Linked DNA regions of Homo sapiens: region 1 is linked to region 2. The links come from fine-mapping of genetic effects on gene expression. Tissue or cell type: whole blood. Region 2 holds a variant in brackets; the other region holds the start of a gene. All regions are shown on one strand. Distances are from middle to middle.

The links. PIP is the estimated chance that this variant, and not a neighbour inherited with it, causes the effect.
Region 1: it holds the start of NCKAP1, and the variant in region 2 is fine-mapped to the expression of NCKAP1 in whole blood (TOPMed, PIP above 0.99).

What each region holds. Positions count from the first base shown.
Region 1 is chr2:183,035,476-183,041,532 of GRCh38, reverse strand. It overlaps NCKAP1 (NCK associated protein 1), which reads left to right and starts at 3,076. Exons shown (of 31, transcript NM_013436.5): 1 at 3,076-3,541. The coding sequence starts at 3,434. RefSeq lists silencers at 2,503-3,154, 2,887-3,476, 3,537-3,656.
Region 2 is chr2:183,078,811-183,086,520 of GRCh38, reverse strand. DUSP19 (dual specificity phosphatase 19) reads right to left here. Exons shown (of 4, transcript NM_080876.4): 1 at 7,362-7,710; 2 at 2,967-3,013. The coding sequence starts at 7,587. Among named protein-coding and RNA genes, the nearest start is that of DUSP19, 3.9 kb to the right of the region's middle. The variant A/C (reference allele first, on the strand shown) is at 4,030.

The DNA of each region.
Region 1 (6,057 bases), 44 kb after region 2:
ATAAAAAAAAAAACAAATAAAAAAGCTAGAAGTTTATTTCTCTTTCGTACAAAACCAGGTCTAGACAGGCCAAGTTTGACATGGCTGTTGTGTTCTAAAAAGCCCACATACACCTTCCATTTTTATGTTTTGTCATCCTTACTGAGTGGCTGTTGTCTTCCTGGTTCAAGATAGTGGTCATTGCATCCTTGTTGGGTGTGGCAGAATGAAGGAAGTGAGGAAGAACTGGCAAATGGAGAGCAGCAGCAGTCCCTTTAGGAAGGTTCTTGACAGCTTATATCTTACTGGTCAGAACATAAGCTGCAAGGGAGGCTGGATGATGGATGTACTTTTCCTTTTTTTTTTTTTTTTTTTTTTTTGAGACAGAGTCTCACTCTGTCACCCAGGCTGGAGTGCAGTGGTGCAATCACGGGGCTCACTGCAACCTCCTCCTCCCGGGTTCAAGTGATTGTCCTGCTTCAGCCTCCCAAGTAGCTGGGATTACAGGCACGCATCACCATGCCCGGCTAATTTCTGTATTTTTAGTAGAGATGGGTTTCACCATGTTGACCAGGCTGGTCTCAAACTCCTGACCTCAAGTGAGCCATCCACCTTGGCTTCCCAAAGTGCTGGGATTACAGGAGTGAGCCAGCGTGCCTGGCCTCAATTTCTCTCTTTCTTTCTTTCATCTCTCCTTCCTTCCTTTCCTTCCTCTCTCCCTCCCTTCCTTCTTTCTTTCCTTTCTCCCCTCCCTTCCCCTCCTCCCTCTCCTCCTCCTTCCCTCCCTCCCTCCTTTGCTTGCTTGCTTCCTTCCTTCCTTCCTTCCTCTCTCTCTCTTTCTTTCTTTCTTTTTAAGACAGGGTCTTGCTCTGTCACTCAGACTGGAGTACAGGGGTGTGATCACAGCTCACTGCAGCCTCTGCCTTCCGGGCTCAAGTGATCCTCCCACCTCAACCTCCAGAGTAGTTGGGACCACAGGCACGCCACCACCCCCAGCTAATTTTTAAATTTTTGTAGATATGGGGGTCTCCCTATGTTGCCAAGGCTTGTCTTGAACTTCAGGACTCAAACAATCCTCTTGCCTTGGCCTCCCAAAGTGTGGGGGTTACAGGTGTGATGGAGCTTGAGCCTAGCAGTTGAAGACCAGCCTGGACAACATAGGGAGACCCTGTCTCTACAAAAAAGTTAAAAAGTTTAAGAAAAATTCCCGTACACTTGTTCTTTTTAATGCAAAATGTAGAGAAAGACAAAAATTGTAATTCATCTACATCTAATCTCTTTTACGCAAATATATACATTTCATTACAGTCTAGGGCCAGTATGTCTATGAATTAGTGACAATAAATATTGAATAATGAGACTACTATCTACAGCGTTCTCCTATTGGGTACTTCCTGAGTTATAAGCAGCTACTAGTATTCAAGTTTATATGGCAACATGATAGTTTTTCTTGGGGAGTAAGAGTTGTGTTCAAATTTATAATACAGTGCCATTTTCTTGTTCTCCCTATACAGCAGTTTTTAAAAACTAGAAAATGAGACAATCTTTTATTGGTAGCACTCTGTAATTCTGCGTCTAGACTTAGTTATTTGTAGTCTCCCTAAAGGAGCACATATTTCCCCAATGTTCAACATTTTTAAATTTTCTTATCTGGCTACCCCAAACCCCTCCTCGCAGCCTCCCCTTCTCAGGTCTGCCCTTACTATTCCAGGCCCCACAACCTTGCCTCCTCTAAATTAAAATGTTAACTATCAGGCTGAGAAGTAACCAGATAAATTAAATTCCTTGACCAGTTAATGACTAGTAATAGCTCGACAGATGATCTCTCTGAAGTGTTTGTATTCTTAAGACTCTCTAGGTACAAAGCATTCATTCAAGGTACTGCAGCTTTGTATATAGAATTTCAGGCACACTGGCAGGTATGATTATGACTTCTTTTGGTGGGAACAGGACTCTTTTAAATGCCCCTTAGATTAAATCCATTCAGTCCACTCCTTCTTTCTTGTTGGAATATTAAAATGAAGATTTCTTTACGAATAGTAGATATAGTAGCTTTAAAAAATATTTTAAAGCTATTCATTACAATTTCCTTTTCTTAAAGAGTTTTGATAAATCCAGTGATGGCTTATTACTCTTAGAATGTCTTATTGAATGTGGCGGGACATTTTGTTACTGACTTAAAATTAATGAATATAATATAAAAAATTAACATATCGAGAAAAGGCAAAGCCAAAAATATTAGAGGCCTGAGTCCTCTTGGCTGAAGTTTCTCACCTCAATTACGTAAGTCCTCAGTTAGTTCACTTTTGGAATCATGTCTAATACATTTGACAAGGGAGTAGCCTTGGAGTGTCGCTAAGAAGAAATTGATCAGGAAAAATGAGATGGCAAAGAAGAATGTTTCCAAGAAGAAGTGGGATTTAGGGTGGAGGCTGTAAAAAAATGGGAGCGGTTCCTTTAGGCATTGAACAAACATTTATTTTTTGCCTTCCACATGCCAGGACCTACTGCGTCTCCTCCGGATGGGTGCTCCTCGCCGACAAAGTCTAGATTGTGATTATCTCAAGGACTTGAGTTACCCTCACTTCCGACCTCCTCTCTCACAAACTGGTTCCAGGCGGGGAGACTGAGGATGGGCTGGGGAGGCTGGCAGAGGCGATCCCCACCTCGCGGAGCACAACATCTGCTGTGTTCTGCGGCGAGCGCCTGTCAAGCAGTGGGAGGAAAAAGCGCTTGGAGCCACCAGCCCACTCTTAAGCGAAACTCGCCTGGAAAACACCCCGCCTCCCAGCAGAGTTTCTGCCGGTTTCTTTAGAAGGGTGGTGCGGAAAAGCAACTTTTGGGAACTTGAAGGAGTGGGGTGTGGGGCGAAGTGGAAAGAGCACACAACGCGACCCCACTCAGTCCCCGCTTGGGACTCCCATCCCGGCATCAGGCGTAGTGGGCGGTCCGGGCCAGGGCCAGGGCCAGAGCGGCGGCGGCGAGGCCATGCCGAGGGCCCGTCGGCCGCAGTTCCCCGTCCGGCCTCGCGGGGGCGCCGGCGCTGCCGATCAGGTGACCGAGGGCCCGTCCGGGGCTGCGGGAAGCGGCCTCGTTCTCAGCCGCCGGAGACGCCGCCGCCGCCGCCGCCGCCGCCACACCTAGTGGAGCAGCCGGGGAAGGCGGCTCGTTGGGGGCTGGGGCGGAGAGCGCCGGGGGTGGGGGCGGAAGGGCGGCGGGCGGAAGGCAGGAGGCTGCCGGGGCGCGGGCTGCTGCGGGAGAAGGGGCTCCGAGGAGTCCGCCGCGGCTCGCTCTGTCGCCGGCGCGGGATTGGGGCGCGAGGGCCATGGGCGCGCTCTCCTAAGGCGGAGGTCGCGGGCGGGAGGGGAGGAGGCCCGAGAGAGGCTGCTGCGAAGGCCGCGGGCCCGTGACTGGGCGCGAGGCGGCCGGCGGCGGCGGCGGCACCAGCACCACCATGTCGCGCTCAGTGCTGCAGCCCAGTCAGCAGAAGCTGGCGGAGAAGCTCACCATCCTCAACGACCGGGGCGTCGGCATGCTCACCCGCCTCTACAACATCAAGAAGGTGCGCACGGGCCGGGGAGGCCGCGGCGGAGGCGGGCGGGCCCGGGAGGGATGAAGGGCAAGGGAGGCCGTGGGGTGGGGGCGGCAGGAGGCGCCGGGTGTAGAAATCTCGGCGTCGCCGCCCGAGGCCCGGCCCGGGGTCGCCTGGATGCGCCGCGGCCTAATGCGGAGTCCCGGGCGCCTCTCCCTGTGGTTCGCCGGCCGGCCGAAGGCAGAGAAGCCATTTCCCGGCTCCCGGCGGCGGGATCGGGCGCTGGGCCTCGCACGGGGTGGGGGCGCCGCTGGGAGCCGGGAGCTGTCCCCTCCTCGGCGCCCCCGCCCCCATGATGGGGCCCATAGGAAAGGGAGGGTGGTGGGTGGGCGAAATTCTAGGTGGGTAGGAAAACTTGAGTGTTCCATATTCTTACGGAGATGGCAGCAGTGAACAGGGATTACACCCCACATCCCCATTTTTTGGTGTGGGAATGTGGGTAGAGAAGGGCTGATTGGATGAATCCCGTATCCCCTCCACTTTGCCACTTTATTTTAGATTGCTAAATAAAAAGCCATTGAGAGTGTGTTGACGATTTGGGATTATTTCATTTTGAAGGTGGAGAGGAGGGGGAAGTGAGGGTGGAACCAATTTTCTGAAATACTTCTAGGCTGTGAGTCACTAGAACTGGAATAACAACCTTCTACTCTTTCCCCTGTACTCCTCCTCATGTTAGATTTTCCAATACCATTTCTTAAAGTTCGGTGTCTGTACAAAATAAAAACCGTAAAAATGTTGCAATTGCTGCTGATTTATAGCATAGTCTGATAATTTGAGCAACTATAGCTAATAGGCCCATTTAAAGGCTTTTACATGTCCTCAGTACAGTAAGGAGTGGAAGACCACTGGAAGTTTAGAAAAGTCCATGTAAAGATAGAACAAATAATTACATTCATTATCGTAGGACAAAACAACAAAATCTCTCCCCTTAAGGCAAGGTTGGTAAGTTTTAAACAATTTGATAAAGAGAAAAAGAGATATTTGGAAAATTTAGATCCATCGAGTTTCCAATGTGTCTTTGATGTCATACCTTCATAACTATTTGTTGGCTTTTTAATATATCGTGAATGTTACCGTTTAGTTTAATCATAGCAATAGATTGTAGGTTGAGAGGGCTTCTGAAGAAAGGTTTTTTTTTTTTTCTTTGGAAATTCATTTCCAAGCGTTTGAGTGTAAAATTGATTTATTTTTTACAATTTGATGTAGACACTAATTCTAAAGAGTGTCCTGGTTTAATGATGATAAATTTTGGATAAGGACAAAGTCTGGTTGCTCACCTAATTGCAAGGCTTTATTACTCTAAACCCAGTGCTATCTGGAGAGTAACTGCAACATGCTTACTCAGTTTGTTACCTTTTATGTGGCAGGAGCTCAGTGTCATGACAAAGAAGCCCCTCTGCATTTACCAAGGAGCCTAGGTTATAAATTTATATAGGTTAGGAATAATTCAGTTTTAAATAGTATTACTTAGAGGTTGCATTGACCTGAACTGTTCGGGGAGATTGTGCTGCTTAAAAAACTTGGAAATTGATTCCTATATGAATTTTGTCCAAAAATGAACAAGTCAAATATTATAAAAGTTACTAGACCTGTGGTATTGTGGTTTAAAGGAAATGGTTATGATGGTTTCTAAAAGAGGAAGTGAGAGTAACATCAAAAGTGATTTGGGTATTTGGGCAAAATACCTTTTCTAAGCATTTATTAAACATTTTTGTAGGATAAATGCAATCAAACTTTAATATCCCACCTTCATAAATAAGATTAAATGAAATTCTGGGCATTTGAACTCTAATAATTCCAGTTCATTGCCTTTTCTCAAAAGCACTGTTTTTTTCACTTCCTGTTTTGGGAAGCTTCAGCCTCTTGTATTATTGAACTTGTGAAAGTTAAAATGCATTGAATGTGATCATTATTATATCCATGTCAAATATTTTGATTTATTGAAACGTCATATTTTAGCACTTGCCTTATATTTTTAGTTTCTTAAGAAATACATTGCTTACCTTGCTTGAGTGTGAATTTTCTCTGGGCAGGGACAGTGTAATTTTTGAAATACTAGAGTATTTAGGGCCTTATCTGATACTCGAGGCCTTCAGTTAGGCCAGGTTGAAATGAATGAATTACTTCCCTCCTCTCTCTCAAAACCTGTGTGCTCTAGTTTTAATAATAATACCCTTGGGTTTGCTCCCTTTGTGTAATTTTGCATGTAAATGAATCAGATAAGATTTTGGATCTTTCAGCCTATAGAATTGTCTGTGAGTCTGGCATATCTTCCCAGCTGGCTAGGAATTGAAACATTTGTTCAAATATCTTGCCAAAGAAGTGAGTAAGATCTGTTCACCATGTGTTTATTAGGTTCATGCTGTCTGCATTCTTACTGCATTATAAACCACATACTCTTTTCAATCTCAACCTCTTCTAGTCTTAAAAAAAAAACCTTCCACCTCATAATACATGTTTGCCAATCAATTATCACATTTTCATTA
Region 2 (7,710 bases):
TATTTTCATAGCCCTGGACTTGCCCTATTATAGCTCATGCCATTTAGAGATTGTTTTTCTCTTTCACTGCACTAGAAACTCCATGAGGGTAGGGACCATGTTTAACTTAGTGTTATAAGCGAATGAGCAGTGAGTTTAGCAGAAAATGCTTAAAATCTTTGTTGAATTAATCTGTGAATATCCATATAAAAACTTAAATAGGAGAAGTGTATCAGTGGTATACAACTTCCCTTTCAAGAATTATTTCCCTATTTTCCTTCATATTCTTTACTTTATAAAATGGTTCTCCAGGATGACTGCACATTAGAGTCACCTGATGAACTCTTAAAAACTATCAATAACACAGGGTCTCATACCCAGAGATTCTGATGAACCAATCTGGCTGAAAAGTAAGGGGAGGTGTGGTTGTAAAATATTTTCTTTCAGATGGTACACTTGAGCAACCTCCTCCTCTTGCATCTATGTATTTGAGCCCCTTTTCCTAGAGTCCACCAACCATGTGGAAGAAAGCCAGGCAGACAGTCCATTAAGATAATCCAAAGGCTGAGAATCACTTGAACCCAGGAGGTAAAGGTTGCAGTGAGCCACGATCATGCCACTGCACTCCAGCCTGAGCAAATGAGCGAGACTCTGCCTCAAAAAAAAAAAAAAAAAAAAAAAAAAAAAAAAAAAACCTAACAACCTTGTCCACATCTGTACTTCCCCTCTGCCTTCTGATTACAATGAAGGATGTGCTCGTGCATCTTCGATAAGGCTCATTCCAGAACCTGTGCTTGGAGTCACAGTGCTTCCTACTTTCTTGGCATCTCCCTATAGTCATAATTCTTGCTTTTCTGTATCTTCAATTCCTTCTTCTACCATCAGCCTTAAAACATGCTCAAAGCTCTCCCCTCCCCCTCCTCACCTATGGCTCCTCTCTCTCTTTTTTTTTTTCCCTTTGCCATCACTTCCTCACTTCTCAATCTTTTGCAATATGGCTTTGGCCTCCAATTCAAATGAAACTGTTTCCACCAAACGCACTAACAACCTCTCTGTCACCAAGTCCCATGGATATAATTTAGTCCTAATCGTACTTAAACTTTTACAGCATCTGACATTGCTGACTCTCTCCTCCTTAAAACACTATTCTCTTTAGTTTCCATGACACCATCTTTTTGTTTTACCTTCTTTGGGCCTCTTTTAGATCCTCCTTTCCCACTGCGGACTCTTCTTTGTTTGATCATTCCATATAGGGTGATATTCCTCAATTTATCAGTTCTGTGATAAGATTCTGTCATAGGCCCTCTTCTCTCTTACTTTACACTTTTCCCCAGGCAGCTTCATCTATTCTAATGGTTTCAGTAACTACTTAAAAGCTGAAGATTCCTAAATCTATATATTCACCTCTATTCTGAACTTCAGACCCTACATATCCACCCACCTAGATGATCCACATCACCCAAAACCTAACATGTTCAGAACTGAGCACACTGTTTCTCCTTCAAAGCCTGTTCCTTCTACGTTGCTTTCAATCTCATGGAACGATAACTTTACTTAGTTACCAAAGAAAGCTAGACATCAGCCTTGACTCCTCCTTCTCCCTTAGCCCCACTCCCTATCCTGCCTCATAAGTAATCAAATTTTAAGAATTCTACCCTCTAAAAAACCCCTCACATCTATCTAATTCTATCTCCACTAAATCTTAATCTCAGCCATTATCATCTTTTCCTTAGATTACTGCAATAGCTTTATAACCAGTTTCCCCCATCTCTAACTTGAGCAACCCTCCAATCGATTTTCCACACTGCTTCTAATGAGAAATCTTTCTGAACTGCAAATTTGACCTTGTTACATCTCTGGGTAACTTCTCAGTGGCTTTCCATAGTCTTTTGGATCAAGTCCACACAACTAACTTTGGCTTACATGGCCTTTTGTGATCTGGCTCATGCTTACCTCTCTCTCTGGCCTTGTCTCTTGGTGCCCTTCTTTCTCACACTCTCTATTCCAGGGTCACTGAACTTTTCTGTCCCTGAAAGCATCCACCTTTCTCTTGCTTCTGGGCCTTCACACATATCATTTATTCTGTATGAACACTTTACTTTCTTTTTTTTTTTTGAGATAGAGTCTTGCTTTGTCGCCCAGTCTGGAGTACAGTAGCAAAATCATAGCACACTGTAACCTCGAACTCCTGGGGTCAACCAATCCTCCTGCCTTGGCCTCCCAAAGCCTTGGGATTACAGGCTGTCTACTCCTTTCCTAGCCTCTTCAGAGAAATACTTCAATATCACTTCCTCCAGGAAGTCTCCCCTGACTCACTTATCCCCCCAAAAACAAACCAAACCAAACATGGGTTAAGAGCATCATCTCCTATGCACTTCTACAGCACCCTGCACTTCCCCATCAAAGCACACAAACGCTGTTCGGTAGCTGCTTGTCTCTCTTCTCTGTCTGCCCCTTAGGTCATACGCTTCAAGTGAACAAGAATCTCTTGCACTCCTTCACCTACAGCAATTCCATGACCTGAAACAGTACTCAAAAAAATGGTAGAGGGCTAAAAATCCTTTTGAGTAAATATGTAATAAATCACATCAGTTGTATGGAGTAGAGTGGCTGGAAATGGCATTACAGAAGACGTGGTATGTGAGTTGGGACTTAAGGTATGGACAGGTCTTGGACAAGCAGAGATGAGGGAAAGTCTATCCCACACAGAGGAACTACATAAACACAGGCAAGAAAGACATGCCTCCAAGGTCAGGTTCATGAGGGTACATGAAGGAGATCAAGAAGAATGTAAAACTGGAAAGACAGATTACAGATCCACATATTTGAATTATGTGCCAATTATTTTTCAACTCTATTGAAATGATAGCCAAAATGTTACCAAATAAACTCCATAATATACCAAAGATGGACCAATACAGTTTTTCCTAAATAAAACAATTAAAATATTCTGTGTATATGGTGCCAGACTTAAAGCATTTTTTTACCTTATTCTTTTTCAGTGTATCCAAATCATGAGCAGCATCTTGTGACCCTAGAAGAAATAAATGATACCACCTTGAACACAAATATAATCATCTTGAACTTTTATATAAATTTCTACAGCAATTCTGTTATTAAAAAAAAAAGACCAACAACTTGGAAGGACCTTAGTCCAACTTTCTGAAGGGCAATTTGATAACAGTCATCCTACATAAACTCCTGGACTCTGAAATCCTACTTCTAAAAATTTGTCCTAAAAGTTATAGATGTTGCAAAGATTAGCTGTAAGGATGTTCACCATAGTATTGTTTGTAATATAAACAAAACAAAAACAAAAGAACACTAAAAGCCCAATAATAGCTGTTGCATTAAATAAAAAATGGTATAATTGTGTAGTGAAATACATACAGCCATTACCACCATTAGAAATAAGAAATGTAAGCCTGAACAACATTGTGAGACCCTGTCTATAGAAAAAAAATTTTTTTTAATTAGCCAGGCATGGTAGTGCATGCTTGTATTCCCAGGTATTCAGAAGGCTAAGGCAGGAGGATCCCTTGAACCTAGGAATTCGGGGTTACAGTAAGCTATGGTTATGCCACTGCACTCCAGCCTCGGTGACACAGCCAGAAGAAAGAAAACAAAAGAAAAGAAAAGATAAGAAAAGAAAAGACAAGACAAGACAAGAGAAGAGAGAGGGAGGGAGGGAGGGAGGGAGGGAGGAAGGAAGGAACGAACGAACGAACGAACAAAAGGGAAGGGAAAGAGAGGGAGAGAGAGAGAAAGAGAGAAAGAAGAAATGTGGTAAAATATGTATAGCATGGAAACATGTTCTTGGCCAGGAGTGGTGGCTCCTGTCTGTAATCCCAGCACTTTGGGAGGCTGAGGTGGGTGGATCACTTGAGGTCAGGAGTTTGAGACAAGCCTGGCCAACATGGCACAACCCCATCTCTACTAAAAATACAAAAATTAGCTGGGCATGGTGGTGCATGCCTGTAATCCCAGCTACTCAGGAGGCTGAGGCACGAGACTTGCTTAAACCTGGGAGGCAGAGGTTGCAGTGAGCCA[A/C]GATCGTGCCACTGCACTCCAGCCTAGGTGACAGAGTGAGACTCCGTCTCAAAAAAAAAAAAAAAAAAAAAAGAAAAATGTTCTCAATGTATCTGGTTATAAAAGCAGGTTACAAAATACCATCATCCATTTTTATAACAACAAAAAATATGTATATGCTTAAAAAATGGAAAGGAGGTATACATAGAACAAAATGTTAACAATGGGGTTGCAGGTGATTTTTTTTTCTTCTTTATGCTCATTCTGACTTTTTACAATAAACATCTCTTTATTTTGTAACTTAAAAAAGGATATTACAAAAACCACACACCCACAAGATGACTTTGTGCCAGCTGGTTTGGGAACACCCAGTAGCTTAGAGCAAATGCTGTTGGTCTGCAGGATCCCACCCACACTCCATGTATCACTAGGGCTGTGCCCTTCTACAATCTCTTTCTGTCACAGCCGGCTTCCCAGATCTCCCACACTTGGAAACTGGCTCTAGTTAATAAGCAAGTTCATATGGAGAATAACTAGTCAAAATAAAGTGAGTTTCACAGTTTAAAGATTTCAAGTATTTTACTTTCCTGAATTAGGTTCTATTTCATAAACTTTTTTTTTTTTTAAGTTACCCATCTGGGAATTCAGCCAACTTTTATTATGTGATTTTAGGTGGCTGAAAGGCCAGCAAGTATGCTGTTTGGCCAATATCCTCTTGATAATACCAAGCTTACAGGTTCGCTACTGAGCTCACATTCAGCTTTATTATACTTAAAAGTTAGCCTATCAAAATATTAACATTTGTTAAAGCTGAATGGTATATACATAATTGTCTATTAGTTTCTGTAATTTTCTATAAATTTGAAATACTTCATAATTTTTTTTAAAATTCTGTTTTCTAATGTAGAAAGCCCTAACCAACTCCAGAGGAAAAAATAGGTTCAAATAATTGAAATTTGGTGGTTTAGTCAGGCGTGGTGGCTCATGCCTGTAATCCCAGAAATTTGGGAGGCCAAGGCGGGCAGACTGCTCAAGCCCAGGAGTTCAAGACCAGCTTGGGCAACATGGTAAAACCGCATCTCTACAAAAAGTACAAAAAAATTAGCCAGGCATGGTGGTGTGCACCTGTATTCCCAGCTATTCAGAGGCTGAGGTGGGACGATCGCTGGAGCCTGGAAGGCAGAGGTTGCAGTGAGCCAAGATCGTGCCACTGCACTCCACCCTGGATTTATTTTGAGACCCTATCTCAAAATAAATAAATAAATAATAAATAATTATCTGTCTATATATAATGTTCAAAGCCTAGGACAAAAATGCTGTCTAAAATCTTTTCTCCATTTTTAAATGGTTCGAGGGCCTATGTAATATTTTTTAAATGCAGTCACTTTTTAGAGTTTACGAACTAAAAAAGATTACATTTTTACAACTCTTCATTTTCTTTATTCATCACCCAAACCAAAAGTTGTTTGGCATGCGATGCTGGGAGGAAGCTGTGTCGCTTTGAGGAGGTGAAAGAAGCTCTTAGAACCAACCTGCAAACAACCCCAGTCTCCCAGACGTAAACTAAGTCTGGTCAGAAACAACTCTTTCAACATTCATGTAGAAGAACTGCGGGTGGAACCACCCATGGATCCTTTAGGAATGAGGCACTTGTAATTAGGCAGAAAAAGGTGAGCTTTCAGAAGGGAGGAGGTTGCTCCTGATGAAAGTATCCCATTCCAGAGAAGACCTTATTAGGGCTAGTTTCAGAAGTTCCTCCCAGGACTCTCCCACTATCCTGGGGAGGTTTCCAACCCCAATCTCAGAACACTACCTTGATCAGTTCACTTTGGGTAAGTCCACAAATAATAGTAATAAGCAAAGTTCATGAAGACCCTAAATTGGTGAATGATATATGAAAATTCTACCATAATTATTCCAAGCCATGATTACTACAGTGGAAGCCAAAATAACTGAAAAATGTGCCAGGACGTATTTTCTTTCCTAGATATGGTGAGCAGGGCCTAGGTGAACTTTTCAGATTACCTAAATAACTCACTTTTTCACTGTAAATGTGACAAGAATATGGTACAGTTTTTCACGGGACTGTAGAAACTAGTTAGAGACATTTATTTGGTGAATTTAAAGACAGCCTATGTAACAATTCATATAATATTTAATAACTTATATGTACACTGCAATTGATTTGCATCAAAAACCTTTTACAACAACCTCAGGAGGATCCTATGACATAAGCAGATACTGTTACTTCATCTTTACAAATGGCTTTTTGGAGGACCAGAAAGGATAAATGGCTTGCACCAGCTAATCTAGTAAATTAGAGGCGGAGCAGGATTGAAAACTTGGTCTATGTGAGGCAGCCTAGTATAACAATGGACAGCAGGAGTCCATCAGACTTGGGCTTGATGCATACGTCTGTTATTTACCAGGTGTGTTACCTTGTGTAAATTACTTCACCAATTTTAAATCCTGGTTTCTATTTGTAAAACAAAGCTGATAATCCCTACTTCACAGGATTCCTCAAAGGAGTAAGACACTAGGTGAACAGCACCTGGGCTATTTCTCAGTCTTCTCTCTATTCAAGAATGCCTTAGCTGCATAGTGATAAGTCATTTAGTCTTTCCAAGTCTTAATTTCTCTATTCATAAATAGAAATAATTCAGACGTACTTGAAAACATTCTTGACTATTTTTTTAAGAACACCATACCATATTCTTGCCAAATTAACAAGTTTGCACTTTTATAACCTTGCTTCATTTGCTATTTGTGAACTATGCTTGTATAGGGGCTCAGTATTTCCATAATACGAAATAAATCATAAGATCTTAAGATCTCCTTCTCTTAAACACTCCAAAAACAGACACCATGAACAGACGTGGCCACAGGAGGCATGTATTCCGCACGGTCTGTAAGAGCTGCGCAGGCCAGCAAGCACAGGACTATTTCGAGTATTAACTTTTCTATAACTTTAACCATTGTCACTTGTAGTTCTGCCTGATACAAACATTCTTTTTTCATTCCTTTTTTTTCAAGCTGTATTTTTTATAAGCCAAGAAAACACAACATCAATGTGTTATTCTCCAGAGAAGTTAGAGAAACGGGAAGAAAGCTTTTCTAAAATTCAAATATGCAGTGCCAAGTGCTACGAGAATAGCATCTATGCTTCTTATGGGTACACTGTGAGGCAGAAACGGCTCTAGCTGGCTAATGGAAGTTCCATATCCAAAAAAGGAAACAGTTCAGCTTTTCGGCAGGATAGCTGATAATACAGACTATTACGCATAAAGGGGGAAAATGAGAACGTAATCTGGCTAAAAGGACTCAATGATCTAGTGGCAAGTCGATATACTCACCTAGGAGCAACCATGGCTTAATAACGCCAACTTGCAGGTCCGAGCTAAGGTCCTGCACATAACCACAACCACCCCCACTGCTCGGCTCTACTTCTTCCACAACATGAATTCTGGCATCTTTCCATGTTTCTATAATTTTCTTTCCAGTTAGCGTTGTCACCCTGGTGCATTGCTTCCTGAGATTATTCCGGGAGAATGCTTTAATTTCCTGGTTAAGGGAGTACATTACATGAGCAGTGGCTGGGAACAAATACAAACAAATCCAGCAGGCATAGAAAACGGCTGAACTGCTAGTCCCTTATTGCCCAGGTAACAAAGCCAGCCTCAGAGGTGCTCGCCCATCCAGGTA